Linked DNA regions of Homo sapiens. The protein of the gene in region 1 interacts with the protein of each later gene in a biochemical or structural test. Each region holds a gene or a part of one and is shown on either strand. Other genes may lie near its edges.

Region 1 (3,500 bases):
TTGGGAGGCCGAGGTGGGTGGACTGCTTGAGCCCAGGACTTTTAAGACCAGCCTGGGCAACATAGGGAGACCCTGTCTCTACAAAAAATTTTTTAAAAAAACTAGCCAGGTGTGGTGGTATACCCCTGTGGTGTGAGATACTCGGAAGGCTGAGGTGGGAGGATCACCTGAGCCCAGAAAATCAAGGCTGTGGTGAGATGTGATTGCACCACTGCACTATAGCCTGGGCAACAAAGCAAGACCCTGTCTCCAATAAACAAACAAAAAAAACCAGGAAAGGAAAAAAAGCTTTTCACCCAGGCTGAGTGTGTCTACAAATACAGCAGAGAACTAACATGCAGAATCTATCTGAGCAAACAGGAAACAATGGTTGCAGACAAACAAACAAAAAAAACCTCTCTCCATATGTTTGCTAACATTCTGGGAAGAGAAGAGCTGCCTTATGAATTGACGTCACCGAACTACTCAATGCTATATGCATGAACACAGATGGTTGCAACTAGTTTCTGCTTCTTACCAACAAGCAGCACATATCATTCATGTGACATTTCATATTCTAATCTCAATCATGGTGGATACAAATTACTATTTATTTGTAATTCTTTTGGTTTTACTATTTGTTTCACTTTAGAAATTTCCTTCTGCTTCAACCTTTGTTAAGACATTACTTTAAAAAATCTCTGTAAGCTGGGCTAAAAGCTGACTAAAAATCAACCCACTATGCCTAAACAAGTTAAACAAGGAACACAGGGAGAGGCATGCATTATCTTTAGTTTACACAGATAATTGTTCAGGCCGATATTCTTTAAGACACAACAAAATCTCCCAGGGGCTTGTGTTGAGGAAGAGACATTAAAACTCTTAACTGCAGAAAGGCTTTAAGGCTTAAGAATGTAAAAGGTAATAGTAAGTCAGTCAAGCTATAATGCACATACTTACTTATCATCAGCAAGGCTTGCAACATGCAGTCCATCATGGCTAAAAGATACAGATCGTACCCACCGGTCATTTGCTCCTCCAGCAAATATTGGAGTAGGTGGGGGAAACAGGTGCCTGAGGTCAAATATATGTTTTCAGTGGATATCAGTCACTTCAAGAAAACAAAATTACCCAGGTACAAAGTACATCTGTCTTTGAATAGTGTTTAAAGTAGCCTTAATTAATATAACTGAGAAGACTCAGTAGAGATGATACATCCAAATTAAAGTCACCTGAAAAGAACTAATCTTTTATGGTCGGGCGCAGTGGCTCATGCCTGTAATCCCAGCACTTTGGGAGGTTAAGGCAGGTGGATCACGAGATCAAGAGATTGAGACCAGCCTGACCAACATGGTGAAACCCCATCTCTACTAAAAATACAAAAATTAGCCAGGGGTGGTTGCAGGTGCCTGTAAGCCCAGCTACTCAGGAGGCTGAGGCAGGAGAACTGCTTGAACCCAGGAGGTGGAGGTTGCAGTGAGCTGAGATTGCGCCACTGCACTCCAGCCTGGCGACAGAGCAAGACTCTGTCAAAAAAAAAAAAAATCTTTTATGATTTAAGACAGTAAGATTAAGTCCAACTTTGGTTTTAACTGTTTTTCTCCAACAAAAACTCTAAACATAATTAGTACTTCTATAGAGAGCTGGGTACTGTTAAGTAGCAAGACTTGTATCAAGAGAGCCAAATTTACTTTTAGAATTTATATCGAAGGCTTTCCATTAGTCAAGGGCTTAAATAATACCAACATTTTAAATTAGAATAGACTGTAATTTTAGGTTGCATATATTGGTGATTGTAATTATTCACATAACTTGATAGGTGGAGATGAATTATAGACTAAAATAATTCATGCTGTACCCACCCAAATTCCATCAGAATGTCTCCATTATGTGGATCCCAGATATATACTCGAGTATCATAAGATGCAGTAGCCAGTAATGCTCCATCAGGAGAAAAGTCACAAGCTACCACATCATGGTGATGTCCTTCTAGTTTCCGTATCATGGTGTATTTATCCATATTCCAAAGGAAAACCTGCAATAAAAAGGCAAATGTTATAGCTTCATTCAGACATACAGAGGACAAAATGGCACATCTTATACTAAAACTGCTAAATTTAATTAAGATTATATTAAGCATTATAAATTATGAGTAATTTAAAGAATATGCTCAGTGTCATAGTCAGATTAAAATCAGTCTTTAAGTTAATTAAGGCAGACATGCAAATTCTATTTCAAATGTTTCTGTTAAATGTTAATTTAAAAATAAGCCTAAACATAAAATAAAGGCAATGCAATTTAACCACAAAGCTATACTGAAATCCATTTATTCCAAAAACTAATTAACTAAAATATACGGAAATAAATAGGGTTAAGTACTACAAACCCCCTTCTCTTTTTTTTCCAGAAACTACCAGATTTTTAAAAAAATATACAGACAGAAAACGTAAGGTTAACAAATTGTTACTCCATTGGCATCTCCCTTTGAGATAATCACTTGTTTACAATAGGCTTGGGTCACCAACTTGAGCCTAGGAAGAGAAACAGATACTGCAAGCAAATAGAATATTCACAGCCAAATGAAATTTCTTTGGCAAACAACAAGGATGTTAAACCACATTACAAAATGAAAATGCTATTTTATGAAAATAATACAATTACATTTCAATAAATCAAAATTTAACCATCTTATTTTTCCCAAACTAACCACGATCATAAGTCATTTGAATATAAAACGGTTCAATTATTTAAGAATAAGTTCATATACAATTTTAGATTCTAAAGATCAGTAGTTAACTGTGCAGAATAGCTCTAAACAGGATTCTAATGTTTACTTCAGTCTGTTATATTAAATGTGAGCTTGGAGGTTTATCCTAAGACAATCTCTCCTCTTGGAGTAAAGCAATCCTTTTTGGTTTTTTTTTTTTCTGCACAGACACAATACATTATTTCTAAAAGAAAATAAGTACAAATTTTAAATTGAATCAAAGACGTAAGATATCTCTGGAATCTGAAAGAATTCCAAAAAATAGCACAGAGAAACCATTTGAAAGCCAAATACTTTACATTAAATTGGTTTCACTTGTCAGACTCCCAATTCCATAAAACTGGAAAATCAATTTACTCAGGAGTCAGTGTATTTTACTGTGGGGGAAATTACTTTAAAAAAGAAAAAAAGAAAGAAAGAAAAGCAGAAAGTGGACATCGACCAGCACCTGTGTACGTACAGTACACCTTGCAGCCGAATGCAAGGTTACTTCATCCTATGGTAAAGGTCGCCCCCAGCCCGGTAGCCAGAGATGCCACTCTTTCTGCCCAGCTAACACCATTGTGCGCCTGTGTGCGAGTGGTGCCAGCATAACCTCAATCACACCAATATTGCTGCCACCACCTGTGACAGGGAAAGCAAGAAGCATATGGAAAACACACAGCCTAAAATAGCAATGTCAACATCTAATTTTGTTCTTCTTATGATTTGTAAAGAACTAAACTGAGTATCTTGCTTTAAACTTCCAACATTT
Region 2 (3,500 bases), on another chromosome or scaffold:
GAAGAACGGGCTGAAACAAGGCCATTGGATTAGGCAATTAGGAAGTCATTTACCTTCAAGAACAGGAGCCTATAGTGCATTAACGAGTTGGGGGAGATGGATTAAGATGTGGGCATTGAAGAAAAGGGAGCATAAACCATTGATCACAGGTGAGAGGAGGGAAAGAATTAAGAGGGGGGAATGCGGCTGTTACTCCTTTTGCCTTCCATGTTGGGAGTTTGTGTGTGCACGCACATGAAGGCAGAAGAAAAAGATGAGGTGACCGATTCATTTGGACAGCCATATTAAGTTCCTACTAAATACTTGGATCCAATTAAGTACAGGGAGAAATGGAAAGCTACAAGAGAAAGAACAGTGGTGGAAGCAGGTTCAAGAGAAAATGGGACAAATATGGATCATGAGAATCGGGAACTTTTTTAGTATTGGAAAAGAGCAACACCTCTTTCTCTCAGACTGGAGAGAAGGAATGAAGGATGGAGGATGATGTAGATTCAGGAATGTTCTGAAATGAAGAAGGAAATAAAGGAGGAAAGTAAGGCTGACCTCAGGCTTCTGGACAAAGTGGAAGTTGGGTCATCTACTGAGAGAGAAGGTGGACTAGGGTGATGGTTGATGGAGTGGAAAGGATTACCACTCTAGGTAATGCCAGGGGCTCAGAGAGACAGGAACACTAGGTTAGCCAACCCCCAACAGGGCTTGCAGAAGCTGCACTTCCTTGTGCTTCTGTGAGAAATGTTTGTTGATAGTGGCTTAGAAGATGGGCAATGTTTGTTACTCTTTTAACCTTTAAGGAGTTATCCTTCATCACCTTATTATTTTTGCTTAATATATTTTCTATGAATTTTTGTTTCAGTATCACCGTAATTTGTACAAGTGTTCCAGAATAACGGTCTCATAGGTTTCTAAGTTTATCTAAATTGTGGATGAGATGTTGGTATGAAATAATAGTACTTCTGGCCAGACACGGTGGCTCACGTCTGTAATCCCAGCACTTTGGGAGGCTGAGGCGGGTGGATCACCTGAGGTCAGGAGTTTGAGACCAGGCTGGCCAACATGGTGAAACCCCATCCCTACTAAAAATTCAAAAATTAGTCGGGCGTGGTGGCAGGAACCTATAATCCCAGCCTTTGGAGGCTGAGGCAGGAGAATGGCTTGAAACCTGGGAGGCAGAGGTGGCAGTGAGCCGAGATCATGCCATTGCACTCCAGCCTGGGTGACAAGAGCGAGACTCGGTCTCAAAACAAAAACAAACAAACAAACAAAAAAAAACAAAAAGAAATAGTACTTTCTAGAGAAATGTATTGATATATGAATTTAGCAGGAAGCGTGAGTGAATGGAGCCATGAATTGTGCTACCCAGTCCCCACCAGTAAGGCTGATAAAATGTTTTATGCTGTTGAAATGAAAAACGTCAGACCAACTGCTGATCCACTAAACCCTACAGAATCGATGACAAAGATGCCAGCTGGTAATTAGGGTTCATCCAGGATCCAGAAGATCCTGAGTGGCCTGGTGATGGGGCCTGTGTGGGAAGATGTTTTCTCAAACCAGTAAACTTGACAGGGTCTGTGGACAAGGCTGAGCTGATGATGTGGGCAACGAAGTACGTGACAGCAGAGCCTCCTGAGTTTCAGTAGAAAGCAACCCAGGGAGAACTGAGGAAGAATCCATTTCTGTCACAAGTAATGTTTACAAAAAAAAATGGTGACCTATGTCCTGATATTGGAATTCTGTTTCTGAGTCTCAGCTGTGTTGCTGGCACCTAATGGTGGCAAGTGGCACCCTGGAACCACTTGGTTCCACAAACTCAGTGACCAGAATGTGCTTCTGGGTGGAAGAGATTCACTTTTTCAACCTTGTTTTCAAGTGGGAGGAATATATTCTGTATGGCCCAAGCCACAGATGAGAACTGAAGGGGATCTGTTGAGTTTACTTGTACCAAGGTGACTCCGATACTTACTTTTCGTTTTCCTTTCCTTGTAGGTATGGCCTCACATGTGCAAGTTTTCTCCCCTCACACCCTTCAATCAAGTGCCTTCTGTAGTGTGAAGAAACTGAAAATAGAGCCGAGTTCCAACTGGGACATGACTGGGTACGGCTCCCACAGCAAAGTGTATAGCCAGAGCAAGAACATCCCCCTGTCGCAGCCAGCCACCACAACCGTCAGCACCTCCTTGCCGGTCCCAAACCCAAGCCTACCTTACGAGCAGACCATCGTCTTCCCAGGAAGCACCGGGCACATCGTGGTCACCTCAGCAAGCAGCACTTCTGTCACCGGGCAAGTCCTCGGCGGACCACACAACCTAATGCGTCGAAGCACTGTGAGCCTCCTTGATACCTACCAAAAATGTGGACTCAAGCGTAAGAGCGAGGAGATCGAGAACACAAGCAGCGTGCAGATCATCGAGGAGCATCCACCCATGATTCAGAATAATGCAAGCGGGGCCACTGTCGCCACTGCCACCACGTCTACTGCCACCTCCAAAAACAGCGGCTCCAACAGCGAGGGCGACTATCAGCTGGTGCAGCATGAGGTGCTGTGCTCCATGACCAACACCTACGAGGTCTTAGAGTTCTTGGGCCGAGGGACGTTTGGGCAAGTGGTCAAGTGCTGGAAACGGGGCACCAATGAGATCGTAGCCATCAAGATCCTGAAGAACCACCCATCCTATGCCCGACAAGGTCAGATTGAAGTGAGCATCCTGGCCCGGTTGAGCACGGAGAGTGCCGATGACTATAACTTCGTCCGGGCCTACGAATGCTTCCAGCACAAGAACCACACGTGCTTGGTCTTCGAGATGTTGGAGCAGAACCTCTATGACTTTCTGAAGCAAAACAAGTTTAGCCCCTTGCCCCTCAAATACATTCGCCCAGTTCTCCAGCAGGTAGCCACAGCCCTGATGAAACTCAAAAGCCTAGGTCTTATCCACGCTGACCTCAAACCAGAAAACATCATGCTGGTGGATCCATCTAGACAACCATACAGAGTCAAGGTCATCGACTTTGGTTCAGCCAGCCACGTCTCCAAGGCTGTGTGCTCCACCTACTTGCAGTCCAGATATTACAGGTAAGACCGTCCACAAGGAGACAGGAGCTGCTGAATGCCCAGTGGCACTCACAGAGAATGTGCCACCTTAGTCACTGTGGGGAGATAAAATTATATGTCTACAGTTCCTGCCTTCAAGTGATCTTAATGTACTTACGAAATTAGGACATGTGCACATTGCGATGTCAATTAGAAGTCACATTAGAACGGAGCCAGGTAAGATCCGTGGCACAGGTGTTCAGCGTTGGAAGGGCTCCCTGGGACCTGGGGTGCAGAGCAGAAGAGTTCCGTCCTCCCGGATGGGTAGGATCCAGACAGGTGGTGGAGAGAGAGGGATGTGCCATCCACAGTCCGCAGTCACACTAGTGGGAATTTACAGGAGACAAGAAGGACACCCGCCTGGCCAGAACAGTTTGTGAGTGGTGGGAGATGTGAGTGAAAGCCTGGTTGGAAC

Evidence for each region. The genes of interacting proteins can lie anywhere in the genome.
Region 2: the proteins of WSB1 (region 1) and HIPK2 form a complex in vitro, tested with the Homo sapiens proteins (one study listed by BioGRID).

The regions. Positions count from the first base shown.
Region 1 is NC_000017.11:27,307,614-27,311,113, reverse strand, and holds part of WSB1 (WD repeat and SOCS box-containing protein 1), read right to left. Parts: intron 3,371-3,500; exon of another isoform or gene 2,015-3,370; coding exon 1,842-2,014; intron 1,054-1,841; coding exon 940-1,053; intron 1-939. UniProt on the Homo sapiens protein: Probable substrate-recognition component of a SCF-like ECS (Elongin-Cullin-SOCS-box protein) E3 ubiquitin ligase complex which mediates the ubiquitination and subsequent proteasomal degradation of target proteins.
Region 2 is NC_000007.14:139,715,499-139,718,998, reverse strand, and holds part of HIPK2 (homeodomain-interacting protein kinase 2), read left to right. Parts: exon of another isoform or gene 1-106; coding exon of another isoform or gene 107-149; intron 150-1,983; coding exon 1,984-3,067; intron 3,068-3,500.